7 separate regions of the Homo sapiens genome follow, and regions 2, 3, 4, 5, 6 and 7 are each linked to region 1. Evidence: fine-mapped QTL for protein levels in blood plasma. Region 1 holds a variant in brackets. A gene starts in each other region. All regions are shown on their reverse strands.

What was found. PIP is the posterior inclusion probability: the model's chance that the variant is causal. Protein levels are from antibody-based Olink assays in UK Biobank. Linkage for the fine-mapping came from a reference panel and not from the study's own genotypes, which makes the PIPs less certain.
Region 2: it holds the start of GUCA2A, and the variant in region 1 is fine-mapped to the plasma level of the GUCA2A protein (UK Biobank, PIP above 0.99).
Region 3: it holds the start of HGF, and the variant in region 1 is fine-mapped to the plasma level of the HGF protein (UK Biobank, PIP above 0.99).
Region 4: CLEC4D starts here. The variant in region 1 is fine-mapped to the plasma level of the CLEC4D protein (UK Biobank, PIP above 0.99).
Region 5: it holds the start of MMP9, and the variant in region 1 is fine-mapped to the plasma level of the MMP9 protein (UK Biobank, PIP above 0.99).
Region 6: OSM starts here. The variant in region 1 is fine-mapped to the plasma level of the OSM protein (UK Biobank, PIP above 0.99).
Region 7: it holds the start of OLR1, and the variant in region 1 is fine-mapped to the plasma level of the OLR1 protein (UK Biobank, PIP above 0.99).

The regions. Positions count from the first base shown.
Region 1 is chr11:73,232,389-73,236,629 of GRCh38, reverse strand. P2RY2 (purinergic receptor P2Y2) reads right to left here. Exons shown (of 3, transcript NM_002564.4): 3 at 1-2,474. The coding sequence starts at 2,470. The coding sequence ends at 1,337. Among named protein-coding and RNA genes, the nearest start is that of P2RY2, 16 kb to the right of the region's middle. The variant G/A (reference allele first, on the strand shown) is at 2,334.
Region 2 is chr1:42,162,273-42,166,513 of GRCh38, reverse strand. It overlaps GUCA2A (guanylate cyclase activator 2A), which reads left to right and starts at 1,769. Exons shown (of 3, transcript NM_033553.3): 1 at 1,769-1,876; 2 at 2,904-3,111; 3 at 3,544-3,824. The coding sequence starts at 1,802. The coding sequence ends at 3,608. RefSeq lists an enhancer at 945-1,909.
Region 3 is chr7:81,768,128-81,772,368 of GRCh38, reverse strand. HGF (hepatocyte growth factor) reads left to right here and starts at 2,322. Exons shown (of 18, transcript NM_000601.6): 1 at 2,322-2,485. The coding sequence starts at 2,398.
Region 4 is chr12:8,511,157-8,515,397 of GRCh38, reverse strand. CLEC4D (C-type lectin domain family 4 member D) reads right to left here and starts at 1,895. Exons shown (of 6, transcript NM_080387.5): 1 at 1,638-1,895; 2 at 70-162. The coding sequence starts at 1,665. It also overlaps the pseudogene SUPT4H1P2.
Region 5 is chr20:46,006,518-46,010,758 of GRCh38, reverse strand. It overlaps MMP9 (matrix metallopeptidase 9), which reads right to left and starts at 1,851. Exons shown (of 13, transcript NM_004994.3): 1 at 1,695-1,851; 2 at 661-893; 3 at 128-276. The coding sequence starts at 1,832.
Region 6 is chr22:30,266,397-30,270,637 of GRCh38, reverse strand. OSM (oncostatin M) reads left to right here and starts at 3,787. Exons shown (of 3, transcript NM_020530.6): 1 at 3,787-3,872. The coding sequence starts at 3,839.
Region 7 is chr12:10,170,760-10,175,000 of GRCh38, reverse strand. It overlaps OLR1 (oxidized low density lipoprotein receptor 1), which reads left to right and starts at 2,869. Exons shown (of 6, transcript NM_002543.4): 1 at 2,869-2,999. The coding sequence starts at 2,924. It also overlaps a transcript of TMEM52B not described here.

The sequences.
Region 1 (4,241 bases):
CCCCAACCCTGCCTTGAGCCTGGAGTCAGCTGTCCAGCCTGCTTATGGCTCATGCACACCCTGCCCTCTTGCCCCATGTCTTTGCCTGGGATGCATCCTGTGTGTGGATGTTCTTCCGGTGAGCTGCTTTTCTCAGAAGCTACAGCTCAGGAGTCTCCCACTCCAGGAACCCTTCCCTGACCCCCTGGCTCACAGCCCCAGCCACTCGGCATTATCCAGTGGTGTGCTAGAGTGACTTGTACCTGCTTGCAAGAACCAATTGTTAAATTTTCAGGAATTTTACAAGGAAGTTGACATCATGTTTATAGTTTGAATTTGGCCATAAGAGTTTTTGCACCATGGAAATGGGCAGTTCTACAAAGAAGGGGTTCCCAGTTAAATCGGAGCTCCAGTTAAATGGCTTAACATTTACCAGCACATGACTGGCCATCACCTAAACTGGGAAATCTCAAGGACTGGGACTGCACCTGACTTTTCTCTGTGCTCAGCACAGAGTCAGGCACAGAAGCCAACTGGCTTTACAGTGGGGGATGACCTGGGGCCTGGAGAGAGGATCCCTGATATGAGACTACTCCTGAGACAGCTAGTGAGAAGGCAGGTGGCAGAAGGGAACGGATTGGAGAAAGGACCCTTGTGTGGCTGGTGAAAGCTTCCCTGCCATATCCTCATCCCCCGACCACACAATAGGGCACAGCTCAGCAGGCAACACAACCTTTAGTATAAGTTACAGCCTCACACTGGCTCCTAGCCCATGGGAGCCTCCAGATGGGTCTATGATATTAGTCCCCAGATGTTCATCTCTTGGGCTGGGGGTACTCCTCAGAGCTAAGTCCACCGTGGCACCCAGTCCATTCCAGACCACTGTGCAAACTCAGCCCTCATTACTTACCAGGGTTTTCTGGCCAACCTGTGACTTGGCCCCCACCCCAGGTAGCTCAGCTCCAGACTCTGGTATGTGATCTTGGTAAGCCACCTTCCTCTCTGGGCCTGTTTCTCCATTTGACTTGATTAGGCTGGACTCCAACCTAGGTACCTTGGCAGTACAGCCAGCTACTTGCATGGGAGTCAGGCCAGGGGTGTCATTGACCTTGAGCTCTTGCCTTTCTTGAAACTTAATTCCCCCAACTTATACACACAAACGATGACTAGGGGTTATGGGAACAGTTGACTCTGGACCACAGAGTGAATATCCTGAGCCCCTGTCAAATGACGGAGCATGGGGTCATCCAGCATGAGTCACTGATGGTCCATATCTGGGGAGACTGTGGCGTCTGCACAAGTCCTGGTCCTCTACAGCTTCCCAATATAAACCTGCACAGGCTGAAGTGTTCTGCTCCTACAGCCGAATGTCCTTAGTGTTCTCGCTACCAGCCGGCGTGGACTCTGTCCGCCTAGAGTCCTCACTGCTGCCCAACACATCTTCTATCCTCTGCATGTCAGTTCTGTCGGATCTGCGCAGGCCCAGCCTGCGGCGAGCCGGGGTGGCAGGGCTGGGGCCAGTGGGTGGCTTGGCATCTCGGGCAAAGCGTACGAGCCTCTGCCCAGCCAGGAAGTAGAGCACGGGGTCAAGGCAACTGTTAGCACTGGCCAGCGGCCGGGTAACCTTGTAGGCCATGTTGATGGCGTTGAGGGTGTGGCAGCTGAGGTCCAGCGAGCGGAAGGAGTAGTAGAGGGTGCGGGTGACGTGGAATGGCAGGAAGCAGAGGGCGAAGACAGCCAGCACCACGGCGATGGTGCGCACGGACTTGCGCTTGGCCCTAGGCAGGCCGCCCGAGGTCCCGTAGGCTGGCTTTAGCAGTCGCCGAGCCATGAGCACGTAACAGACAAGGATGACGGCAAAGGGCACCGCGAAGAGCAGGCCCAGCATGACTGAGCTGTAGGCCACGAAGCGGCTGAAGAGCTCGGGTGCCGAGGTGTCGTGGCAGGTTACGCGGCCCCCGCGCGCGCTGGTGGTGACAAAGTAGAGCACGGGGGCCTGGCAGGCCAGCACCAACACCCACACGGCCCCGGCCACCCGGCGAGCGTAGCGGGCCCGGCCCCAGCGCAGGGAGCGCAGAGGTCGTAAGACGCCCAGACACCGGTGCACGCTGATGCAGGTGAGGAAGAGGATGCTGCAGTAAAGGTTGGTGTAGAAGAGGAAGCGCACCAGCTTGCAGAGCACCGTGCTGAAGGGCCAGTGGTCGCCGCGGGCGTAGTAATAGACCAGCAGCGGCAGGGAGGCCGCATACAGTGCATCAGACACAGCCAGGTGGAACATATATGTGGTGGACGCATTCCAGGTCTTGAGGCGGCACAAGAAGATGTAGAGCGCCACGGCGTTCAGACACAGCCCA[G/A]GCACGCACACCACGCCGTAGGACACAGGCAGCAGCACGTACTTGAAGTCCTCGTTGAAGCGGCACCTGTAGCCCAGCTCATCCCCATCCCAGGTGCCATTGATGGTGTCATTCCAGGGGCCCAGGTCTGCTGCCATCGCCCTGCAGGGAAGGGAGGGGTGGGGCCATCAGGGTTGTGGCCGGAGCGCCCCTAGGGGACCTGACACAGCCACCTGACCAGGGCTTTCATTGCCATCTGACTTGGATCTGGACCTGGAACCTCCAAGCTCTGGAACCTTGAGAATGCATGAGATCAATGAATAAATATCAGGATCACACAATTGTCAAACTTGAGAACAGGGGTAGACAAACTATAGTCCAAAGGCCAGATCCAGTCTGCTTTTGTAAATTCAGCTTTGTTGGAACACAACGGTGCCCATCTGTTTACAAAGAGTTGAGTAGTTGTGATAAAGACCATATGGCCTGTGAAGTCTAAAATATTCACTATCTGACCTTTAAAAAAAGTTAGCTCAAGCTGGCTACGGTGGCTCATGCCTATAATCCTAGCCACTCAGGAGGCCAAGGCAGAAACCAGGTGTTTAAGCCCAGCCTAGGCAACAAAGTGAGACCCCATCTCTACAAAATTCTTTTAAAAATTAGCCAGGCATGCTGGCACACACCCGTAGTCCCAGCTACTTGAAGTTTTCTTACCCCTCTCTAGAACCTCAGGATCAGAGTTTTAGATCTAGGATTCTGAGCTCTAGAATCTGAGGACCTGGGGGTGCCAGAGCAGGTAATTTTGAGTTCATGGGAAGGGGCCTTTGAGGCTGGCTGGCCCTGCTTCACACCCAATGCCTACTGCCTGCAGAGGCATTTCTGGCCAGTGGGCATCCAACAGCCCCCTGCAGGCATTACAGAGTTCTCTCCAGCTCATTTTCCCACTCTCTGGGAGGCTCTGGGCCCATGCCTAGTGTTCTGGTATTTGAGGAAGTATTTCCAAGGGTCTCCTTCTTCAGTTATTCCTTCACTTTTTACATCTTCCTCTATTCTGGCACTTTCTATATCTATCAACAGCAGTCCTGCCCCTGAGCCTGTGAGGCTACCAGGGAATCCCCCTGAAGTAACCCCCGTGAAGAGTCCAGGGAAATCTGGGTTGGAGATAGGGATAGGGGGCCAAGGGATCTTCTTTTGTGTGGTAAATGCAGCTTCTTCCATGCCTATCCAGTTTCTCTCTGCATATCGTCAGTATCATGGTGTCCCCCCCAACCTTGTCCCCACTGAGCATATAACACACCCATGGGGACTGACCATCCAACAGACAGTGAGTGCCCAGGGAGCAGCTTGTCCCCTCCCTCTCCTCCTTACCCCTACCCAGGTGACCAATTAAGAGCTCTCTCGCAGCTGGGAGGTAGAGGACAGACATCCCGGCCTGGAAGACAAAGACGTGCCTAACGTCCCAGGAGGCAGGTTGGAAATCATAGCAGAAGTCCTGGGTGGGCAAGTTTGAGAAAAACACAAAAAAGCACTTTCTAGCAGTGTGAAGGGGCAGGAGGAGCTAACATTTTTCAAACCCTACTACTAAGCATGCTTTCTAAAAGTTATTCACTTAGGCCGGGCGCGGTGGCTCACACCTGTAATCCCACCACTTTGGGAGGCTGAGGCGGGTGGATCACTTGAGGCCAGGAGTTCAAGACCAACCTGGCCAACATGGAGAAACCCTGTCTCTACTAAAAATACACACACACAAAATTAGCCTGGTGTGGTGGTAGTCCCAGCTACTCGGAAGTCTGAGGTGGGAGGATCACCTGGGCCCAGGAGGTGGAGGTTGCAGTGAGCTAAAATCATGCCACTGTACTCCAGCCTGGGTGACACAGCAAGACTCTGTCTCAGAAAAAAAAAAGTTACTACACTTTATCCATATGATGTGTT
Region 2 (4,241 bases), not on the chromosome of region 1:
TACACACACCCCAGCAGACACCCCAGCAGACACACATCCCAGCAAACACACACACCTCGGTGTACACACACGCGCCTGTGTATATACACACTGACACACACACACCTCGATGTATATATGCACACCTCCTTGCACAGACACAGATACCTTGGTGTACACGGACACACATATACCCCTCAGCATACACACACATACACCTCAGCATATATACACATACACTCCTCAGTGTACACACATGCCTCAGCACACACACACCTTCAGCACAAGCACACATACAAACACACCTTGGCTACACACACCCATCAGGGTATATACAGACACCTTGGCATACACAGACATACACATCTCCGCAGACACACCCCCCCTTAACACACACACACACACACACACACACACACTCACCAGAAAGGGGTGGGAAATCCAGTGCAGCTGTGAGGACTGCCCTGGGAGCTGGGCCAGGAGCTACCTGCCCCTCCCTGAGGGCCTTGTCCCTGCAGTTCCCTCCTGGTCAGGCCCTGCTCTCTCCAATTCCCTCTTCAGTGTTGACTCTCCCCACCCAGGAATTCCTGCCCAACCTCCCGCCCTAGGGCTGTCCTGGCATCGGGCCAGGTTGGCTGAGTAGAAAGATGACAATCCCAGGGCTACCCTTTCTCCTGTGTCCTGGGGATTCCTGCTCACAACAGCACACAGTGAATGCACGCTGCCCTGAGGGCGCAGTCTGAATGGGGTCAGAGTCTATAGGGGCGCGGGCACACCCAAGCAATTCCCCAGTGAGATCCGCGGAAAGGGGACTGTATCTGCAGGGGCAAGGGGGGCGGGCGGATTGGGGAGGAGCTCATTCGAGGACACCCTGAGGCTGCAGGGCAGGCAGGACAGGATGGGGACCAGCACAGGATGGGGACAGCCTGTGACTCAGACAGGCAGGAGGTCACCAGAGGGGCCAGGGAGGACCAGGAGCTGCTGTGGCTGCTAATAATATGGGAATGGACCTCTGCTGAGCACCTTCTGTGTGCCAGGCATTGAGCTAAATGTTTTTAAAACCTCACTTGATTCTCCAAACAGTAATGCCTACCACACACCTACCCCATGAGGTAGGTATTATTTTTGGTTCCCACAGGGGACACAAGGGACAACGAGACTCAGAGAGGGGAAAGCATTGGCCCAAGTTCACACGCCTCACAACTGGGCAGTAGGTGGAACGGAACCCAGGCTGTGCGGAGGGCTTCCTTGAGGTCGCGGCAATCAAACCCAGACCCTGACTTGCCCTGCAGCCTCCCCCGTGGAATTTCTCACATTTCCCTGAATATTCCAGGCCCGTCTCACCTCCTGGCTGTCCCTTTGGCATGAAATGGCCTTCTGTCCTCAGTCCCTTCTCTGGGAAAACTTCCACCCATTCTCCAGAGCTCAGCCCCCAGTGCAGCCCCGTCACCTCATCCTAGGATCACCCCACCCTAATCGCCCTGCGTTTCACTGTCGGGCTGGGCCCCCCTCCTCAAGGGCAGGGTCTGCCGGCCCCACACAGCAGCACAGGGCAGTCGTGAGTGAATGTGCCTTGTTGGTGAATGAATGCAGGACCCAGCCCGGCTGTGGGTCAAAGTAGGTGCTCAGGGAGGGGCCGGGGCCCCCCCTGCCTGGCTCTTATCTCCTAGGGCTGTCTCGAGCCTTATCTGATAAGGCCTGACAGGTGAGCAGATGAGACTGACAGAGGCTTCCAGGTTACTCAGTAACCTGCCCTCTTTAAAAGTCCCGCCGCTTCCCCCTGGCATCCAGAACAGCCACCCCTCTCTCGGGCACTGCTGCCATGAATGCCTTCCTGCTCTCCGCACTGTGCCTCCTTGGGGCCTGGGCCGCCTTGGCAGGAGGGGTCACCGTGCAGGTGAGTCCTGTGTCCCTACCCCGGCCCAGCTGGCTCCCTGCCCCTAGTGCCCAGGTCTGGTCCCCTGAGAGAGTACCTCCTCTTTGGGGCTGGATTGAGGGTGTGTGTCCCAGGCTTGGCCTTCTTCGAGGAGCTCCTGCTCAGTCCAGCCACACACACACCTTTCCCTTCAACTTTGGAGGAGAAAGAAACCCAGTGGAGGGAAGAGGAATAACCATATGGGGAAGGCGGGGAGTTGGCCAATTTACTGAGTGTCCTATGTGCCGGCTCCTTCCCCAGCCCCTCACTGTGGCTCCACTATCAACCTGGAAGAAAGGGATCATTAGTCCCATTTTACAGAGGGGAAAACTGAGCCTCACAAAGGTTCTGTAACAGGCCATGGGCACATGGCTGTGGGAAGTGCAGGAGCTGGATTTAAATCCAGACCTTACTCCTCAGTGGGTCCCAGGAACCACATGGACACCCTGGAGGTCCTGACAGATGGGTATGCCTACCAGTGCCAATGCTGGCGACAGGCCAAGCTGGCACCTAGCGGGGGCCCTGATCTCTATCAAAGCCAGATTCCGGGAGGCCTTTTATTGCTTCTCAAACCAAAACCAGGCTGCAGGCTGGAGCTGGGGGCCCAGTAATCAGCCGCACCGCTCTCAGGCAGGGGAAAGACAGCCTGGGCTTGGCCACGTGGAACTACGATGCCTGGGTGCTGGTCCTTTGCCTCTCCCTAAAAATCAGCACACTGGCTCCTACTCATTAGGCACCTATGGTGTTCCTGGAGCTTCACACCCATTTTCTCCATTCCCCATACAACATGCAGAATTTGCGGGTTCCAGAGTGTCCAGCATCACGGAGCCAAGCCAGGACGTGGGGCCTGAACTCTGCCCCTCACAGTGCCCCACTGTGGATCGCCTGGCTCCCATATGCCACGAACACTGCCTGTGAGCACCACTGGGCTGGACCGGGGCCAGCACGGGGGGCACAGCCAGGAAGCAGGCTGCAGCCTGGCCTCATGCTCTGGGCTTCTCTCTTCCAGGATGGAAATTTCTCCTTTTCTCTGGAGTCAGTGAAGAAGCTCAAAGACCTCCAGGAGCCCCAGGAGCCCAGGGTTGGGAAACTCAGGAACTTTGCACCCATCCCTGGTGAACCTGTGGTTCCCATCCTCTGTAGCAACCCGAACTTTCCAGAAGAACTCAAGCCTCTCTGCAAGGAGCCCAATGCCCAGGAGATACTTCAGAGGCTGGGTGAGCAGCCTCCTTCCTCTCTGATTGGTGGGGTTCGGGAATACTGTGGTGGCACTTGAGGAAGAGATGTGCTCTGATTGGTGGGATTTGGAGGAAGGGCTCAGCTCTGACTGGTGGAACTAGGGAGCTTGGCTCTGATTGGTGGGTCTGTTCCATGCCCACTTCAATTCCAAGTTGTAACTGCTGAGGTTTGGGAACTAAGACCATTCATCTGGTCTTAGTTTCCTCTCTTTCTGGTGGAATCTCTGCTTTGATTGGTTGGTTTGAGTGGTCTGTGTGCCCTGGTTTGGGGCGAAAAGCCCAGTAGGTCAGAGTACGGGCCTGCTGAGATTCTCCTGGGGCTGGGTGGTGACGTACAAGCTCTGGGCCAAGGGCGGCAGGGGCCTCGCGAGGAAATGCTGGTTCTCACGAGGCTCCATCTCTGTTGTGCAGAGGAAATCGCTGAGGACCCGGGCACATGTGAAATCTGTGCCTACGCTGCCTGTACCGGATGCTAGGGGGGCTTGCCCACTGCCTGCCTCCCCTCCGCAGCAGGGAAGCTCTTTTCTCCTGCAGAAAGGGCCACCCATGATACTCCACTCCCAGCAGCTCAACCTACCCTGGTCCAGTCGGGAGGAGCAGCCCGGGGAGGAACTGGGTGACTGGAGGCCTCGCCCCAACACTGTCCTTCCCTGCCACTTCAACCCCCAGCTAATAAACCAGATTCCAGAGTACTCTGGGTGTTGCCTTCCTTCCTTCCTTCATCCCCTAGTCTATCCTGCCCTGGAAGCTCGGGATGTAATGTACTAAGCGAAGGACCCCACTCTCCCTGCTAAGCTGCTCACTGTCCCTGGGGCTGCCACAACACAGAGGCGTGGAGAGGATCTGGATCTCCAAACCACCAAGGCAGCGGGTGGTGGGGAGGGTTTGCTTTTATTTCACATCTCCTGAGGTCACCAAGTTCACTGAGCCACATGTGAGCACGGGAGCCAGTCTGAGCTGGTTTGGACAACCAATACAGGCACTTGGCCCACTAGAAGACTGGCACCAAACTCTTGGGTATTCAAGGACTTGGCTCCCACCAGCCATGCTAGTGTGGCCTCCAGCCCTGACCACATCCCAAACCACACCTCTTGCCATTTCCTCTGCTG
Region 3 (4,241 bases), not on the chromosome of region 1:
TTTATTTGATCATAATTTTACACAACCCGAGAGCCTTTAGAACAAAGACCCAAAGTTACAAAAGAAATTGTCCATTTTTATGCTTAGGTTCAACAAAGTGTGGGCAGGTGTGGAGAAATACAACTGGACAAAAGGAATATGATCTCATGCTAACAGACTGAGTGGGGACGCCTGGCAAGGTGAGATTCTTCCTGGTATCTCTGTGCAGTACTCATTCCTTCTGGGTATGGGGCAGGACCTTCTTTGGAATGGGGTCTTATGAGCTACGATCAAACAAGGTAGGTCAGATAATGTCTTTATGGCCAGATTTCACACAGAAAGTTGAGGTGTTAGAGTGATATGCTTAGGTTTTATGGCTGGTTTGGGAAAAAGGGTTCTGGTTTCTAGGAGCCACCTTGGGAAAGAGGGATTCTAGTTTCTATGCCTCGCCTTGGGGGAGAATGAAGGGCCGGAGACTGGAGAGCAGGAGAAGGTCAGAGAGAGCTGATTCTGAGGTCTTCATTTGGGGTATCATTTTTCTGAGCCCCTACACCCTAATAAAGCACAAGAGATGCAGTGGAGCAATTCAGGGTCACGGTCAGGCTATGCATTGAACTGAGATTTCCCAAAAAGTCTACTGAACAGTAAAAAGAAAGTAAAATGGATCCTGGGGACACCAGACAGAGGCTGACAAATGATTTTTAAGTAAGGAGAAAATGATAAAAGAGAAGGATTAGCAATAGAAACGGGTCATATAAAATAGATCCCTCAAAAGGAATTCTCTTAATCCCTAGCTTCTCTAGATATCCCACAACCTCAGGGACTTATCAGGCAGGTTGTTTTTCCCTGAAAGTGGGGGTAAGGGAGCTGGAGGACAAATGAAGGTGGTATGTGGAGGGAAGGCTGTTCTGTGGATGAGTTTAATTCAGCCCCACAATCACTTCTGTACAGCTACCCACCGCTCTAGTCATTCCCACATTTGGCCTGCTTTCTTTTCCTCTGTGGACAGGGGCACTGTTCTCTACTAATATCCATCTCAGAGAGATACAGGGGCAAGTATCCCTCAGCATCCATTAGAAATAAAGCAGGCTCTTGCTTAAAGTTACCAGAGCATCCACCTCTGGGTGCAAAGACAAATTCTCTGAATCAAGTGAGGGGTCTGGGCAATGATCTCACAAGGATTTGATACCTAGGAGTCCCCCCATGCCCATACAAGCTCCTCATCTTTCCACTTACACTTTGGGAAGCTGGCTGTCGTGTACAGGCAGATGAAGCTGGAAAAGAGAGGCATATTCAGTACTCACGAATTCAAACAGCTTGAGGGATTTCCGGTGAAAGTCAGTCCTAACCAGTGTATACGTACATACACACCAACATGTGTGAATGTGTTGTGTGCACGTGTGTGCCTGTACAAGTCCACATGGCATATTTACCTGTCAGGGACAGGCTATGGACAATGACTGTTTCTTGGACTTTCTCTTAAAAAGTCAGATCAGACAAGTTTATTTTGTATACTTTGGGTAAATGTGTGGTATTTCGTGAGTTTGGCAGTTTGTGAAAAAAAAAAAAAAAAAAAAAAAAAAAAAAAGCTGCCTGCTCTGAGCCCATGGGGCAGGGGCAATTTTTTCATCTGACAATCTGCGTGCTTTTGTTTTGCTTGCTTATTTTGGCCCCACAATACCACACCCTTTTCTTAACTAACCTCTTTCTACCTGGGCTGGACGTGCCTGGGCTCTCCTCCCTGGCCCCGCTCCCACCTCTCCCAGGTCTCTAAACCCCTAGAGAACCTGTGTCAGTGTTTTGAATCCCTCAGTTGCTCTAGCAGGAAAACTAGACAGATTAGGAGCTGGGGCACATTTGGCTGAAAGACAGCTCTTCGCTTTCTTCTTATGCTGCTTCCCCTTCCTCTTTTCCCAAATAGATATATAAACACATGTATTTTCCTGTTTAAATTGAGCGAATTGGTCCCCTGCCTGTGCCTTGATTTAGCCATTGGGCTCAGCCTTGCTCCTCCCTTCCTTACTCGGATAGGAGCCACTGGGATCTGGAGCTCCAGCTTCCAAATTGAAGCTGGCCTCAGGCCAGGTGACCTTTTCTTTGTAAGTTTCTTTCCTAAGCGTGGGGTTGGGGGGAGGCGGGGAATGGGGGGGGTTGCAGGGATCTGTTTGGTGCTGTTGAAGGGGGGGCGAGTGAGGAAAGGAGGGGGCTGGAAGAGAGTAAAGGGCTGTTGTTAAACAGTTTCTTACCGTAAGAGGGAGTTCAGACCTAGATCTTTCCAGTTAATCACACAACAAACTTAGCTCATCGCAATAAAAAGCAGCTCAGAGCCGACTGGCTCTTTTAGGCACTGACTCCGAACAGGATTCTTTCACCCAGGCATCTCCTCCAGAGGGATCCGCCAGCCCGTCCAGCAGCACCATGTGGGTGACCAAACTCCTGCCAGCCCTGCTGCTGCAGCATGTCCTCCTGCATCTCCTCCTGCTCCCCATCGCCATCCCCTATGCAGGTTAGTTCCCTTCTTCTTCTTCATTATTAGTATTAGTATTTAACTCTCCTGCTAACCTTCCCTATTCCTTTTAACACCCTCTTTTTACCCTATTCCCAGCATCCTTTCTGAACTCAGTATGTAGTATAGGTTTCTAAAAGCTCTCATTATGCTTTTTTTGACATTCTTTTTTGTTGTTGTTTGAATAGCATTTAAAATGATAATTAACTTTCCCTCAACTCCCCTCCACCTCCAACCCAAGCCCCGTCCCACTTAGCCTAATAGTTGTGGATTATGAGATAGGGAGGAAGTGCTAATACTGGCTGAACTTGGCTGCTTTGGACAAGTTTAAAGCTAAAGAGAGGGTCTGGTCTGAAGAGGCAAGAGTGATGGTCAGTCCGGCAGGAAGTCATCCTTTTCCAGAGAACAATTTTTCATGATAATGCACTACTCCACATCACCTAGTCAACATTTGGAGCCAAATTACGACTTTGTACAGGTTTTCATTTTGAGGAGGCAGAATAAACTCTGAGTATTTGCATATCATAAAAATGAAAGAGAAAGCCTCTTTTTAAAGATCTTATTCTTTCTGGGTACGGATGCCTGCCCTTTGAAACTGCAGTGCACGGAGACTTTGATTAAAGCTGCAGAACTGCCCATCTCTGTCTCCCACTTTCTCCCTTGGATTTGCCGTTTGGGGAGGAGTTGCTTGAAAGTTCATATTGCTTGGAGATTTAGAGATCTCGTTTGCTGCTCTGGGAAGTTTCTCTTGTTATCAGGGCAAGAGGAAACATCTGTATTTTGTTGTATCATTGTAGAGGCTGAGGTGCCAACGGGAGAAGGCAGTGAATATCAAGGGTAGGCGCAGGGGAATAAAAGAGTGGGAACAAATGCCCAGATGGAGACATGGCCTTTTTACAATATAAAAAAGAGAACTGGCTGTATCTTTTGAGATGGTAAATATGACATTTATCAGACCTTTGATCTAGTTTTTGATATGGTACAAGGGTTAAAAAACTCAAGAATTTTCTAAATGCAAAGGAAAATCATTCAACCCACCTGGTTTTCTTTTATTTTGTGAAGTGGCCCGTTTGGAAAATGACACTGTTTGGAAAGGGTCACTCTGAAAGCATTTAGGTAAGATTTCTGAAGAAGTGAAAAAGCAGTGAGTTCAAATCAAGCAGGTTATCATGCTTGACATGTGTCATGTTAAAATCGCTTCACAGGGTCGGGTGCGGTGGCTCACGCCTGTAATCCCAGCACTTTGGGAGGCCGAGGCGGGCAGATCACGAGGTCAGGAGATTGAGACCATCCTAGCTAACAAGGTGAAACCCTGTCTCTACTAAAAATACAAAAAATTAGCCAGGCGTGGTGGCAGGCACCTGTAGTCCCACCTACTTGGGAGGCTGAGGCAGGAGACTCTCTTGAACCTGGGAGGTGGGGGTTGCAGTGAGCCGAGATTGTGTCACCGCACTTCAGCCTGGGGAACGGAGCAAGACTCCATCTCAAGAAGAAGAAGAAAAAAATGCTTCACAGATGACTGCTGGTTTAGGGGATTTTGAGCTTAAATTGAAATAATGGCTAATATTTTGAGGGTTTTCATTTTTAAAGATTAAAATGTCACTGTTCTTAAGTAGAATCTGGTTACCTGAATTCATCTGTGCTAACGCAAGGGGAACGCAGTGTGGAAAACCCAAACAGTAGATCAACCGTAGGCAGTGTCTATTTGTTTTCGGCATGCATTATGAACTTTTGGCAGGAGACATACATTTGTAAT
Region 4 (4,241 bases), not on the chromosome of region 1:
AGAGCAACTTCAGAAAAGTTGTTTGGAAATAATAATTCAAGAAGAGTTCTACTTTGGCTAATAACTTACCCAAACAACTTGCAATAAAACAGACACTGAGAAGTAAGATGAAAACTACAGCAATAACCGAAGGTATCAGCTGGGGATGCATGCCTCCTTCCACTAGGACCAAAAGAAAAATAGAGATTAACCTCCTCTCAGCTACAAGCTAGGAAAGCTAATTCTACCAAGGAGCAATCTAAAAGTGACAGCAAACCAAATATTTCAGATCTAGAGAAGAGCATAAATATTTTCTCCAAATAAATCAATTTTAGAGCTTATTGATGAATAAATAAATAAGAAAGAAAAATGTAAAATTTCTTGGTAATTTTGAAATGAAAAGAATTTTATAAGTAAGATACAAAACCCAAGAGCCATTAGAATAGATAATTTGAGTACATAAAAATTAAAACTTCTATATAACACAAGCAATGTTAGAGTCAAGGAACGTATGAAAGGAAAGTCTTCTCATAATATTAATATCCGCACTGGATAAAGTATTTCAAAATCAACTAGAAAACTGAGCAAAACTCTGAGCAGGAAATTTGCTGAAATTTTAATTTGCTGAAGTTATAAATAGCCACTAATCAAACAAAAATATGCCCAATCAGGGAACTGTAAACGAAAAGATTGTGGTATAACTTTTCACACATCAGATTTTTTAAGTAAATTAAGTACATGCAGTGTTGGCAAGGCTGAGGGGAAATAAGCACTCTTAGTGAGAAAATAAATGCTGCTGCCTGGACTGGAAAATTAGGAATGCCTTTTAGAAGGATCAATTTAGTGGCATTTATCCATTTTTAAATGCATTTCATTTGCCACAATAATTTCAATTACAGGTGTCTATTCTATAGAAATAATTGAGCTTGTTTATGTTAAAAGATATTCATTGCAGTACTTCTCAAAATAGAAAACACATACTGTAATCTAATATTTACATGTATATTATCAATAGTGGAAATTCTAAATTATGGTCCCTTCACACAATGATATTCTGTATAGTAATTAAATAAGCATGTAATCAGTATATATTGATGCAAAAAATCTCTAAGAAATATTGTTACCTAAAAAGGTAATTCAATAGGATCACACTGTGATTACAGTTTGCCATGGTAGGGTGATGAGATAAAGTAAAACTTTAATTTTAATTTAAACATTTCCACACTTGTTCTATATATCTATCAAAAATATTATTTAATATTATCACAATACAAATCCACTGGTGTCACTTAAGTCAAACATAAAATGGGACAGTTAGAGCCTCTGATACAGCATAAGCCTAAATGCTTTTTCTACATCTTCCTTTTCTCTTTTTTCTTTAAAAGAATCTTCTCATATTACTCTCTTTCTTTTCATCTTATTTCTCTTTTATATATTTTATCTCCCCTCTTGGTCCAATATACATTTTATAAAGAAGTTTCTGTTATCCAACTTATTTGACTCTATGTCCTTCCTCTTCACCAACGTCATTTTTATTTCCTTCCACCTCCTTCTCCCCGTCATCATCAACAATCTTTAAAACTACCATCAATTCATATGTTTTAAATTAGTATAATTCCATCTGCTTCTTTGAAATGGAAAGGAGAGAAAGTACTCACGTTTACTTTGAGGTTTTTCTAGCCCCATTGTCTAATTAGTCTCTTGTTCAATGGTCAGGACGGCAAGAATTTGTTCTATTTTTTTTCCCCCAGAGTATATTTCTGTGGATAGGGGAATATATTCAGAAATACTTGAGATCGAACACCAATGTTACATATTGTAGTGAGATTAGAAAGGTACCAGTATAAGAAAGTTAGCTCAAAAGAAGTCTTTTTCAAAGACAGGGGTTTCCTTTGATACATTCCGGGAGATGAGGCGAAAAAAAAAAAAAAAGGAAATTGAGAAAGCAATACCAAACAACAGTTAGTAGAAACCCACAAGTATGTTGAGATCACTAGATCAGTGTGAAATGTGGAATTTCTCAATTTGTTTTTTTTTTCATTTAGACAAAAAATTTAGCAACGCCCTAAAAGAAATAATTGTTATGCCCAATAAAAATTTAGTAAATGTCCCCTCTTTTTAAATTCTTTTTGTGAATATTATATTTTCAAAGGCAGTTATATTCTTGGGGTGAGTTCTATACTAAAAAGTTCTCTGGACTGAATAAAAAGTTGAGTCTAAGAGAGCAAAAGACAATGTGAACAATGAACAAAAACTTTTAAAGTATACCTTGTGTGTACATGGCATGTGAAGACACAGCAACCTTTGTTTTCGAGTTGAGGAAGAGATGATAGAGCAGTTAATTAAATCCCAAGAACTTTCTAGGTGAGCAAAAAGAGTTGTGTTAAGGCAAAGACAAAGAAAATGTAAGATTCTGTGATAAAGACACCATCAGGGTCCCTGACTTCATTTATAGCACTGTTAGGGAGTGAATGTCTGTATCTCCTCAAAATTCATTGGTGGAAGCACTACCCTCCAACGTAATGGCATTTGGAGGTCAAAAGTTTGGGAGGTAATTAGGTTTAATATGAGGTCATGAGAATGGGGTCCTCATGATGGAATTATAAGAAGAGACCCGGCTAACGAGCTGTTTACTTCCTGCGGGTGCTCAGGCTGTGGCCATCTTCCTTGCTGTTGCTCTTCTCATTGGAGAAGATGGCCCTGGAGACGGTGCTGAAGGACCTGTGGCATCTGTGGGCCTGTTTGCTGTGTTCACTGGTCAAGGTACTATAGACCAGTTTGAATATGATGGTTGTGACTATTGAGATGCATATCTACAGATGAAGGGTAACTGAGAGATGCTATATGGCTGCACCAGCTCCTCCTTTGATGGAATCATTGCGATGATGAGTCCAGAGGACAGCTGGGTCTCCAACTGGCAGCGAGTCAATAACTTTAAGCCAGGTGTATATGCGGTGTCAACCACTGGTCGCTTGCCCTAAGGAATCGTGCGGGAGCTGAAAAGTTGAGGAGTGGCCTACAAATCCAAAGACACAGCTATAAAGACCAGACGCAGGGCTGCCAGCGTCTTTGCTCTCCACCTCCTGCCTCTGCTTATTTTTTGTTCTGGAACTAAATGGGCAGAGCTTCAAATGCTTCCTACCCTCCAATTCAGACTCAGCCAACTGTTGAGAGAACAGCACATCATTTTATCATTTTACCTTATTTGGACTTCAGGTGGGGGTGGGAGGGATTTGGGTTGGTGGATTAACAGATGGAATTGAGGAGAGAGTAGGATGCTGACTTTCCTACCTGTAGCCCAAGGCTGCGCCTTGCTCATGAAGAGGTCTAGGTCAAATGTCAATAAATAGAAACCTCTAGAAAGTTCTTAAGGCCATGACACCTGCCTCGCTTCCCTCTTCCTTTCTCTTAGGCACACAGTAAGAGCTTATTTGCCCTATAAGATACCTTCCCAGAGCAGCAGAGGCCCTTCCACTCCCTCTTGACTGTCTCAGCCTCCAGGATTGCAGCCTTTGTAGTGTGCTTCCTTGCTTCCTATCAGAAGGTGCTGTCCAGAGGCTCAGTAACCCCATCAGCTTGGTGGCCCTGGTGTCTTGTGCTTGTATCCTTCTGCCCTTGAGACCTGGCACAGCAGTATCCCTTGAAGAAATCCTGAGGCTTTGTCGTGCTCCTTGCTCCTTGACCATGTTTAATAATTCTTTTCCCCCTCTGCTCGTCAGTTTTCTTCTCTTTACTGCTCTTCCTATATCTTAGGCCAGTCTCACACACTCACATTTTACATTTTCCTTACTGGAGACCCTTGGGCCTTGGCCGACTGCTGGGTCCTAGTCTGCCTTGTTTGTGCCCCTGTAGGAGGCAGGTCCTTTTCTCCGCCGGCCCAGTAGGGGACCTTGGGTAACATCCCATTTTTCGGCCAAAGTGAGTTATTTGTTTTAGGATAAAAAATTTACTACAAATTCTCATTTACTTAAATTTCCACAGAAATCCTGTTAGTGTCCCCATTTTGATTTCCCTAAGTTCCTTGTTCTCCCTCTGTAAAAAAAGAATGATTACACCTTGCCTGTTTACCTCAGGAATGTTGTGATTGTAGAAACGAAGCTATGTGAAAATTATGCAGCCATAAAAAATGATGAGTTCATGTCCTTTGTAGGGACATGGATGAAGCTGGAAACCATCATTCTCAGCAAACTATCACAAGGACAGAAAACCAAACACCACATGTTCTCACTCATAGGTGGGAATTGAACAGTGAGAACACTTGG
Region 5 (4,241 bases), not on the chromosome of region 1:
CGTATAAGCCAGGGCAGCGCGGGCAGGCAAGAGGAAGCCGGGGCCACTGCTGCCTCCACGCTCTCCGTGGTCCTCCCTTCCCTGACCCCGCCCAGGTCTCTTGGATTTTCCCTCCTCACGTTCTCACCCGCGACACCAAACTGGATGACGATGTCTGCGTCCCGGCTGTACACGCGAGTGAAGGTGAGCGGCGTCACCGCGCTCCACAGTGCGAAGGCGCGGGCAAAGGCGTCGTCAATCACCGCCCGCGGCAAGTCTTCCGAGTAGTTTTGGATCCTGTAGCGTAAGAGCCAGAGGAAGGAGGTCAGAAGTGAAAGGCTGGAGCGGGGCAGCAGGGACACCCCATATCGCAGAGACTTCAACATACACAATGCTCTCTGCCGTCCACGCTCTCATCTATAAATTGCTTCCAGACTGTTTTTTTTTTTTTTTTTTTTGTCTACTTAGACCCTCACAATGGCCCTGGCAGGAGGACTTGGATTGCAAGAGCCATTTCCCTGAAGGAGAAACAGAGGCTCAGAGGTGGGGACACTCCCCAGGGGCCACACATTAAATAGTGAAACCCAGGGACGCGTCCAAGACAGGACATGTTCACCGCTGGCCCAAGAGCCAGACCTGGCCTCCCCGCCCCACCCCGCTGCCCCCACGGCCCCGGCTCACCAATAGGTGATGTTGTGGTGGTGCCACTTGAGGTCGCCCTCAAAGGTTTGGAATCTGCCCAGGTCTGGGACCCCGCACCGTGGGGTTCGCATGGCCTTCAGCGTGGCGCTATCCAGCTCACCGGTCTCGGGCAGGGACAGTTGCTTCTGGAGAAGCAGCAGCGCAGGCCCCAGAGATTTCGACTCTCCACGCATCTCTGCCACCCGAGTGTAACCATAGCGGTACAGGTATTCCTGTGGATGAAGGGACACACACATGCCAGATCTCTGACCCCTTTCTCTGCCCAGCTGGGGCCAAAGGACTCCCTCCAGACACTCATGGAGGGAGTCTTTTTTCTTTTTCTTTTTCGGAGAGACGGTATCAGCCCACTGCAGCCTGGACCTCCTGGACTCAAGCGATCCTCCCATCTCAGCCTTCTGCATAGCTGGAACTACAGGTGCACATCACTGTGCCTGGCTATTTCTTTAATTTTTTTGTAGAGACAGGATCTTACTATGTTGCCTAGGCTGGGCTCAAACTCCTGAGCTTCAGCGATCCTACCACCTCAGCCTCCCAAAGTGCTGGGATTACAAGTGTGAGCCGTCATGCCCAGCAGGGACTAACATTTAATAAAGCATTAAATGCTTTCCAGACACCAGTGCTTTCTGACCACCCAGGGATCTCCCCTCCTTAGACATCCTCAGCTCCTTCTCACCCCTGGATGCCTCTAGCCCATTTCTACCCCACAGCTGCATAAGGTTTGCCCCTGTTCACTCCCAGCCTATGCTTACCCCAGAACCCTCCAATGCCTCCCCCACCCCAAACCATTTCCCATTTCCCACCTAGGAAAGCCCCATTGCCCATTTCTGGCCATCACTGCTCAAAGCCTCCACAAGACCCCCCACTGCCTAACCCTGGACACCTCTGTTCTTCAGATACGCCCATCACCACCAACACACCCCTAAAGCATCTCCTCTGAGGCCCTGCATCCTCTCTGGGACACTCAACACCCTCACGGACAGCCCTCCCCAACTCTAGACTAGGTGTTTGCCCACCTCTGCCAGCTGCCTGTCGGTGAGATTGGTTCTCAGGTCTCCAGGGAAGAGCACAAGGGTGGACTGGCGCTGTCTGGGGGCAGCAAAGCAGCAGCCCAGCACCAGGAGCACCAGGACCAGGGGCTGCCAGAGGCTCATGGTGAGGGCAGAGGTGTCTGACTGCAGCTGCTGTTGTGGGGGCTTTAAGGAGGCGCTCCTGTGACCCCACCCCTCCTTGACAGGCAAGTGCTGACTCAGGGGTCAGGGTGTGTGTGTGTGTGTGTGTGTGTGTGTGTGTGTGTGTGTGTGTGTGGCAGCACCAGCATGAGAAAGGGCTTACACCACCTCCTCCTCTCTCCACTGCCCGCAGTCTCCACTGCCAAGTCAGGCAAGACCCCAGACCCGCAGGAAACCGCAGGCCCTCAGGGGAGGGGTAGGGTTTTGCAAACTGCAGAGCTTGTGGGAACTGTATGAAAGGGAGGGAGGGGGATGAAGCTGGAGGGATCCCCCATCCCTTGGTCTGAAAGCCTCCAGTGGTCAGCCAAGGGAAAGTGATGGAAGACTCCCTGAGACTTCTTTCTGAAACTAATGATCCCCCTGGCCCATCCTTGGCCTTTTGCAACACCCCCTCCCAGGTCAGATATCCTCCCCAAACCCCTCCCCACACTCCAGGCTCTGTCCTCTTTTTCCCTCCCTGACAGCCTTCTTTGACTCAGCTTCCTCTCCCTGCTTCATCTGGGGGCGGAAGGAATGGGCTCTGCTAGGCAAGGCTGGGGAATTCCACTGGGGCAACCCCCTGTCTTCCGCAGGCTGAATCTTCAGGGCAGTAAAGGGGACAGTAGCAGCCTCTAGAAAACAGCAGACATGGCTTTACTCTCTTCCTTCAGGACCTCGGGCAAATGTCTTACCACTTTGAAGTGTTTCCTCAGCTGTAAAAAAAAAAACGGGGGGTGGGGGGCTCTTTGTCCCTAAATTGATGTGAGGATTAAATGAGATCAAACATATAAAATGTTTAGAACACTGTAGGTTGTAAGTCCGCAACGGATGGTGGTGATTGGTTTTAATTACTAAGGCCAAGACCCAAGATTCAGGGCCAGGTATGGTGGCTCATTCCTGTAATCTTAGCACTTTGGGAGGCCGAGGTGGGAGGATTGCTTGAGCCCAGAAAGAAGGTCAAGGATACAGTGAGCCATGATTATGTCACTGCACTCCAGCCTGGGCAACAGAGCGAGACCCTGCCAAAAGACCATGATTCTAACTTGGAATCACCAAACCAGGTTATTGGGCTCTAAGCTGCAGTGTAACCTGGAGTAAATGCCTTCCCCTTTGTCAGCTTAGGATTCTTCAACTGCAAATTGGGGCAGGATATGGGGGAAAATAATCTATAGGAGCCCTTTCAGTTCTCCAGCCCTGCTCCATGCAGCCAAATCTCCAGCCCCAATTATCACACTTATGCCAAGCCTCCCTCCCAAGCCTCCCACACCAGCAGCCTCCCTCACTCCTTTCTTCCTAGCCAGCCGGCATCGGGCAGGGTCTATATTCACCTTCTTCAAAGCCCTATTTGGGAAAAACCTGCTAACAACTCAAAAAGTTGTATTTATTTATTTTATTTTATTTTTGGGGGGTGTAGTATCACTCTGTCACCCAGGCTGGAGTGCAGTGGCGTGATCTCGGCTCACTGCAACATCTGCCTCCCGGGTTCAAGCAATTCTCCTGCCTCAGCCTCCCGAGTAGCTGGTATTATAGGCGTGCGCCACCACGCCTGGCTAAATTTTTTGTATTTTTAGTAGAGATGGGGTTTCACTACGTTGACCAGGCTGGTTTCGAACTTCTGACTCAAGTGATCTGCCCACCTGGCCTCCCAAAGTGCTAGGATTACGGGCATGAGCCATGGCGCCCGGCCCAATAAGCTGTATTTAAAGGGCCTACTATGTGCCAGGCATTTTATATGCTTATCTAATAAATGAGACTGTGAGATGGAGATAATTAACTTCCTTTACAGAAAAGTTGAAGTTCTAAAGTTCACTAACCAATGAACATCTGCTTTGCAGTCACGAAGTCCTGGATTTCCATCCCGGCTCTGCCATTTTCCAGCTATGTGACCTTGGGCAAGTCACTTTACCTCTGAACCATAATAATAATAATGCATTTTTTGAGATTTACTGTGTCAAGCACCGTAATAAGTTCTCTATAAGCCTCTCGTTTCATCCTCACCACCTGTAAGGTAAGTTTAATGAGTATCCCTCCTGTTTTCAGAGGGGGAAACTAAGGCTCAGAGAGTTAAGGAATTTGCCTGTGATCACAGAGCGAGTTAATCCACAGAACTAGTGTTCAAGCCCAGAACTGCCTGGCTCTGAAGCTTTTCATCTTTATTACCATTTACAGGGAACTGTGATGACCCAGGTATAGAAGTGGGTAGGTGGATGCGGTGACAGGGGCAGCACATAAAACCTGGATGCTTCTCCTCTGGTCCCCTGCTACCCACTGAAGGTAAGAGAGGAGGCCCAGGCATTTAGGGAATCAGAGGCTAGGACAGGGGACCCAGGAGGAACTAGATTCTAGACTCGG
Region 6 (4,241 bases), not on the chromosome of region 1:
CGAGACCAGCCTGGCCTACATGGTGAAACCCCGTCTCTACTAAAAAAATACAAAAATTAGCCAGGCATGGTGGTGGGCACTTGTAGTCCCAGCTACTCGGGAGGCTGAGGCAGAGAATTGCTTGAACCTGGGAGGCAGAGGTTGCAGTGAGCCAAGCTGGCGCCACTGCACTCCAGCGTGGGTGACAGAGTGAGATTCCATCTCAAAAAAAAAAAAAAAAGAAAAGAAAAAAAAAAAGAAGTAATTAAGGTAAAATTGGCCAGGTGTGGTAGCACATACCTGTAATCCCAGCTACTCTGGAGGCTGAGGCAGGAGGCTCGCTTAAGGCCGGGAGTTCAAGGCTGCAGTGAGCTATGAAAGCACCACTGTACACTTAAGCCTGGGCAACACAGCAAGACTTTGTCTCGAAAAAGAAAAAAAAAAGGAATAATTAAGGTAAAATGTGAGTGGGCCCTAATCCAATGTGAATGGTGTCCTCATAAGAAGAGATAAGGCCAAGCGCGGTGGCTCGCTCCTGTAATCCCAGCACTTTGGGAGGCTGAGGCAGGTGGATCACCTGAGGTTAGGAGTTCGAGATCAGCCTGGACAACATGGCGAAACCCTGTCTCTACTAAAAATACAAAAATTAGCCTGGCGTGGTGGCACACGCCTGTAATCCCAGCTACTCAGGAGGCTAAGGCAGGAGAAGCGCTTGAACCCAGGTGGCAGAGGTTGTAGTGAGCTGAGATCGTGCCACTGCACTCCAGCCTGGGTGACGGAGCTAGACTCTGTCTCAAAAAAAAAAAAAAATCGATTAGGCCACGGACAAGCAGAAGGAACATGATGTGGAGATACGGGGAGAGACAGTCATCTACAAGTCAAGGAGAGAGGCCTTGGGAACCAGCCCTTGATTTCAGACTTCAGCCTCTAGAACTGTGAGAAAATAAATCTCTGTTACGTAAGCCCCCCAGTCTGTGGTACTTTGTTATGGGAGTCCTAGCAATGTAATCTACCTGCTCTCCTTACCTTCAGTGACTCTGAGCCCTGGGCCCTGTGCCTGACACCCTCATTAACTATGTGCAAAGAGTATGGTCTTTGGGCCTCGTTTGAATGCCTTCTTTTCTTGGTGGGTTTTTTGTTTTTTGTTTTTTTTAAACAGGGCCTTGCTCTGTCACCCAGGCTGGAGTCCTGTGGCATGATAATGGCTCACTGCAGCCTCAACCTTCGGGGCTCGAGCGATCCTCCTGCCTCAACCTCCCTAGTAGCTGGGACTTCAGGTATGCACTACGATGTCTGGATAATTTATTTTTACATTTTCTGTAAAGACACAGTCTCGAAGTCCTGGGCTCAAATGACCCTCCTGCCTCGGCCTCCCAAAGTGCTGGGATTACAGGCGTGAGCCACCATGCCTGGCCAAATGCCCCTCTCCTCTTAACTATTCATAGGTGACCTCAGACAAAGCAACCTCCTCTCTCTGCCATGAGGAGACAGCACGGCCTCCCTGGACCACAGGATAGATAGAATAAGATAAAGGCATGTGGCTGTTTCTCACCAAGCGTGGTGGTCGGTCAGCCACAGCTGAAAATGGCCTAGACCCCTCTGCTCAGATCTGGCGCTCCTTCCTTGAGCCAGCCCCTAAACTTCCCAGAGCTTCGAGCTCCTCACTGAAGTGAGCTGAGGTGTCACTGCCCAGCGGCTTCTCTCCCCTGGCTGTTGCAGGATGAGATCGGTGGCTGGGTGCTGTGGCTCACGCTTGCAATCCCAGCACTTTGGGAGGCCAAGGCAGGAGGATCATTTGAACCCAGGAGTTTGTTATCAGCCTGGGCAACATAGTGACACCCCGTCTCTACAAAAAATAAAAAAATTAGCTGGGCATAGTGATGCATGCCTGTGGTCTCAGCTACTCAGGAGACTAAGGCGGGGAGCCTTGCTTCAGCTTAGGAGCTGGAGGCCACAGTGAGCTACCTACAATGGCGCCACTGCACTCCAGCCTGGGTGACAGAGCAAGATCCTGCATTTAAAAAAAGAGAAAAAAAGACGAGATCAGGGATGTGAAATGGAGAAGGATCCCCTCTTGGCATGGCCCCAGGAAACAGCATTGTGGGGGTGGGCACAGAGATGAGGACTTCAGCGGAAGCGACATTCTCAGGATGAGAATCCAGAACTGGCCCCTGGGGGTGGTGAGGGGGAGGTATGAGGCCTGGTGTGGTGAGTCCCAGCCTGGGTGCCGGGGAGTGGGTAGGGGCTGAAGAGCAGCCTCCTGGGCGTGGGGTCGCCTATTTTTGCCTACTACGTGATCCTCAGACCTGGGAGTGGCTGGTGCAGCATGGAGCCAAATAAAGGTTTGTCGAATGAATAAATGAGTGATGGGGAGAATGGGTGGCAACTGCCTTGGTGGCCACAGTGGGCATCGGGAGCAGGCATGGACAGGGGTGCATCCAACCTCCTCCTTTCTGGCTGCCCCAGCTCTCCTTGCTCAGGCGCCCCAGACCCCATGCTCCCTCCAGCTGGAGCAGCTCAGGCCTCCCTGGCAGCCTCCAGGAGTCCCACCCTGACTCCCCAGACTCCTGAGGGCCTCCTCCCACCCGGGCTTCTTAGGGTGCAGGCCAAGGACCCTCCTCTGGGCCTGGGAGATGTGCTGACCAGGCAGGGTCTATAGGCCTGGGCCAGCCTCTTGGCCTCCCTGTCTGCCTTCACCCAGGCCTCAGTTTACCCCACAGTAAAGTAGCAGTTTGACTAGGGAGGCGCTGTTCCCAGGGCCCTTTCGCAGAGGACCAACCTAAGATCGCTATCTTTCAGAGAAAGTGAAACCTGGTCCCCAACTGTCAAGGCGGCAACTCCCCCTCCCCGGCTTCCCCTCTGAGCTCACAGCTTCCCCATCTCCTCCTTCCCCCATCCCGCCCCCTCGACAGCTAATACTTGGAATCAGACCTTCATCTTTGCTTTTTCCTTCAGAGGTCTTTTCCTTTTATGTCCATGCTGGCAGCAACCCTGTGAGGTGGGCTGGGAAAGGCTTTTCTCCTCCTCATTTTATAGTTGTGGGTCTCTGAGGCCCAGAGAGGTTAAGTGACTTGCCTCAGGTCACACAGCACCTCAGCAGGCTTGAACCCTGGCCTCCTGTTTCTCTTGCTCCAAGTGTCCAGTTCTCCCCAGTGGAGCCTGCCTACAAAGACAAGGCCTGGCTTTGGGGAGTGGGCCTGGCAGAGGGTGCACGATGGGGGAAAGGAGACCGTCGGGAGCCGGGCTGGGGGATGCTGGTCCTGGGGCCTGAACCACAATCTCGGGGCTGCCAGCCTGCGTCTGGCTCTGTGCCCAGAGCCCGGTGGTTTCCGCTCACAGATGTCCCAACAGCCCCGGCGAGAGGGCAGGAAGGGCACTCAAGAAGGAAGATGTCTCGCTCCCCTCAGCCCCCAACCACCGTGTCCTGTGAGGCCAATGGCTCCTGGGCCAAGACTGGCCTGGGGCCTCCAGAGGCCCAGCTCGAAGTCCCTCCTGCCCATCCCTGGCCCAGTTCCCTGAAGATGGCATGGACCCTTTTCCTCCCCACTCACCCTAGGAAGGCTGAGGCTGCGGTTTTACATCATCCTTGGGCGTAGGGCTGACCTCGAAGAACGAATTCGAAGAAAACAGGAGGAGGAGCGGGCATACACCGCGCCCTGCGCCCATTGGCCGCCCGTGGAAATTTTGGTTTTTGGGGTCATGTTCCCAGAAGGCCTGCCCTCCCCCCTCCCCATCCCCACCCACCTCATGAGGTGTTGGCCAATCGCCCCAGCGGGCATAAAGTGGCTGCCAGCCTGCAGGGCTCCCAGCCGAGAGGTGTCACCCCCAGCGGGCGCGGGCCGGAGCACGGGCACCCAGCATGGGGGTACTGCTCACACAGAGGACGCTGCTCAGTAAGTACTTCCTTCCTCCCCGCCAGAACCCGCCTGCTGGGTCTGCCCACGGGTGCCGGTGGGGAGCAGAGGCACCCTCTGCCCTCCGGGAACTGGGGAGGCCAGGCGCCAGGCAGAAGGATGCTGAGAAGGGGAGAGAGCCAGGAGGTCAGGCAGAGAGAGTGGTCCACTGAGAACCTGGCATCTCCACAGGTAGAGAAGGGGCATCCCTGGAAGGCTTCCAGGGGGAGGTGATGTCAAGATGTAGAGGCAACTCTGGGAACCAGGGGGTGAGAGAATAGGATGGGCAAAGAGGCTGGGCAGGAGAGGGAGGCTCAGAAGCTGGGCAGGGAAGTGGTGTGAGGTGTGGAGGGGTTGTGGGGCCTCCAG
Region 7 (4,241 bases), not on the chromosome of region 1:
AACCCAAACGTCCATCAATGGATAAATAAAATGTAGAATGTGGTTTATACATACAATGGAATATTATACAGACTTTAAAAGGAACAAAATTCTGACACATGCTACCACATTGATAATTGTTGAAGACATAATGCTAAATAAAATAATTTAGATACAAAAGGACAAATATTATATGATTCCACCAGTATGAGGTGCCTAAAATAAACCAATTTATAGAAACAAAAAAATGGAACGGTGGTTTCCAAGAAAGGAGAAAGGAATTGGGATTTGTATTAGGTCTGTGCAGAGAAAGAGGATCAATACGCTGTGTACATACATAGAAATAGGTTTATTATAAGGAATTGGCTTGTATGATTATAGAGCCTGGTAATTTAAAATCTGGAGTGTGGGCTGCCAGACTCGGCCAGCGAGTGGAGAACTGGGAGAGTTGATGGCTGAGTTCCAGTCCATAGACAGCTGGGGGATTCTTTCTTATTTGGGGGAAGGTTAGAAGCTTTTTGTTCTTTAGGCCTTCAACTTTTGGATGAGGCCCACCTACATTATGCAGCGAAATCTACTTTCCTCTTCTGATTAATATGTTAATCTCATTTAAAAGCATCCTGTCTGGGAACCCCATGACCCAGTCAAGAAGACACAGAAGGCCAGCACGGTGGCTCACGCTTGTAATCCCAGCACTGTGGGAGGCTGAGGCAGGCGGATCACTTGAGGACAGGAGTTCAAGACCAGCCTGGCCAACATGGTGAAACCCTGTCTCTACTGAAAATACAAAACAATTAGCCGGGAGGGGTGGCGGGCACCTGTAATCCCAGCTACTCAGGAGGCTGAGGCAGGAGAATTGCTTGAACCCAGGAGGCGGAGGTTGCAGTGAGCCGAGATCATGCCATTGCAATCCACCCTGGGTAACAAGGGTGAAACTCCATCTCAAAAACAAACAAACAAACAAACAAACAAAACACATGAAATTCACCATCACAGGAGTTATTGCTTGGTGGGTATAGAGTTTCAGTTGGGGAAGATGAAAAGTTCTGGAGATGGATGGTGGTGATGGCTGCACAACAATGTAAATGTACTTAATGCCACTGAACAGTACACCTAAAAATGGTTGAAATGGTAAACACTTTATGTTCTATAATATTCATGGCATCCAAAATAACTGAGTCACTGTAGAAATGATAATGTGCCCTTTTCAGTGTGATATCGTTTCAGTATTTTTTAATTCTTTTTTTTTTTTTTTTTTAAAGGGAGTCTCGCTCTGTTGCCCAGGCTGGAGTACAGTGGCACAATCTCAGCTCACTGAAAATGAAAAGCATTTTCATTTTCCACCTCCCAAATAGCTGGGATTATAGGCTTGCAACCAGGCCCAGCTAACTTTTGTATTTTTAGTGGTGACAGGGTTTCAACAGGTTGGCCAGGCTGGTCTCGAACTCCTGACCTCAGTGATCCACCCCCCCCCTCAGCTTCCCAAAGTGCTGAGATTACAGGCATGAGCCACTGCACCTGGCCAACTTTTTCAATTTGTTCTCAAATACTCTGCACATAATAAAAGGAATATAGGAAACAGGGAGGAGGAGGGAAATGGAATCCTAATTAGGCTGTCAATATTGGTAATTTTTCCTAATAGTTTCCTATATGTTTTATTTATGTATTTATTTTTCCATTCTTCCTTTGTGTATTCTTTTCTTTGCACTTTTTTTTCCTGGAGTAATTTAAAGTAAATGCCAGATATCATATCATTTTGCTTATAAATACTTCCTTCAGAAGACATCTCTAATAGATATATATCTGGTTAGGAGGTTGTCAAGGGAAAATAGAAAAGTATTCTATCAGTAAATACATATAGACATACTTATGGGTCTCTCATGTAAGCGTCTTTGTGACATGAGTCAATCATGGATTTTACTGAAATACATTATTTGATGGGTAATTCAACTGTGCTGAATATTAGTACTATACTAATAATTATTATTTATTGGCTTCTTATTATGCTCCAAGTACAAAGCTTGTCATTTTTAACCAGCGTGTCATTTGAATTCCTATAGCAACGTGACATTTTTCACAAACCTAGTGTAAAAAAGCTTATTATTTTTACCCAGCATGTCATTTGAATTCCTATAACAATGTTATCAGGTAGACATTATCCCTAATTTCCAGACATGTCATTTGAATTCCTATAACAATGTTATCAGGTAGACATTATCCCTAATTTCCAGACAAAGACATAGATTCAAAGTATTAAGATTTCCCAAGATTGTAGACTAAAGGAAAGTACTGAAACTAGCTCTTTCTGCATTCAAAGTGCTCTCTGCTGCTACGTTACACTGGCACTGCATGAACTAGTAGCCCCAGATAAATTCTAAAATCACCCAGGACACACCATCGCTGGAAATGGGAGCCATATGTGATTCACCCCAAAATTCTTAGATCCATTGCCAGATAAAACAGTGAAAATCAAAAGAGAATATATCTGATTCGTAAAAGACACCATATAGAAACAGTCTGCTAATGAAATTAGCAAACAAACATTGGAATCAAATATTTTGGCCCATAATTCTGGCACATTTTTTACAAATGTAGTGTGACTTACTCTCTTTGAATTTCAGTTTCTGTCTCTGAAGAGTGGGTACAATATCTCTCCTCTGATGCTCATGAAAAATAGTTTTCCCTTTCATAAATTACTTAGCGAAATATCCTGAAACACCTTCAGAATCACCACTTTCTCCACCTGCAATACACATAACTCAAGAATTTGCGTCAGCGAACTTCCCAATATGAAGCAAAGCCTCTCCTTCCTCCTACCAATGATTGAGTCATTCTTCTATTAGATAACAGTAGCTATTTAAATACTTCTGCAGAAGCTCACATATTTTTAGTTTGTTGAAGTTCGTGACTGCTTCACTCTCTCATTCTTAGCTTGAATTTGGAAATGACTTTTGATGACCTAAAGATCCAGACTGTGAAGGACCAGCCTGATGAGAAGTCAAATGGAAAAAAAGCTAAAGGTACTAGGGATGGGAAAATGTGTACAGGGAAAGAATCCCAGTGTTAGCCCCAAAATGTAAATTCACCGAAGAATGGGATTAGAAAGCTAAACACCCAAGTATGGGAAAATAGAATTAATACCATTTACTTAAAAGAAAAACAAGAAGGCTATAATGATGATGATGATGACAACTTATTTATAACAATTTATACTGAGTATTTACTACAGGTTATTCTATATGTTATTCACTTTCAGAGTATTATTTCTCAGAATCTTCGCAATAACATTTTGAGATTGGTACTATTACTATCTCCCTTTTACAGAGAGCTAACTGGGCATCAGGAGGACTAACAACATCATCCAGTTTCACGGAGCTAATAAGTGGTAGAGCTAGGACTGTACCACAAACTCCCATTTATCCAGAATTCTATACATCGGAGGGCTCGGGAACCAAATTTATCTGGTGTATATAACGATAATTTCTGTAAGAGTCCTTCAGGCACTACAAAAACCTGAAGTACCTCATGAATTATGCAGGCAAAGTAAATGATATTCAGTATAGTTTAGCATAAGTTACATTTTGTTGTGTACTACTGCTTTGAAAAATTGTAAGTTCTGTTTGACCCATACAGTAATTAAATTGCATAGCTATAAATTAATTCATAATCCCAATTCCACAGACAATCTGGGTAAATTGCCTTTTATTCTATATCTGTTCTGAGGAAAATGAACAGAATATAAGGAGAGAAAGAGAGACAAGTATTGTCAGAAATTTGGATAAAGAAATTCCAAATTACATTTCCAAAAACAAAACAGAAATTTCTCTCAATAGAGAACATAAGTGTGAGCATGGAGTGATTTAACATTTGAGCCAATGAACTAAATTGCTATAAAAACTGCTGATATTTATAGGTAAAACCAGAAGTGAACAATAGTCATTCGTTTCTTTACTCATTCATTATTTGTGTAGTAAATATTGAGGGTCTGAATTTTACAATAATCATGAGATTGATTTTTCTTTCAGAATCTTGGTTAGATCGGTACCTACTGCAAAGAATCGGATTGGTTTATGATTGGAAAATCACTAGTAGGGGCAGCAGTTGGATTAATGGTCTCTGCCTACCAAGGACACAGGACAAAGAGAATCTATAGAAAAAGGGAACACATACCTTCCTTCACAGGGTCCTGTGATTTTCTTTTTCCTCTAAAAATTTAGTTTTTCATTATTTAAGAGTGATGAGGCCAGGCGCGGTGGCTCACG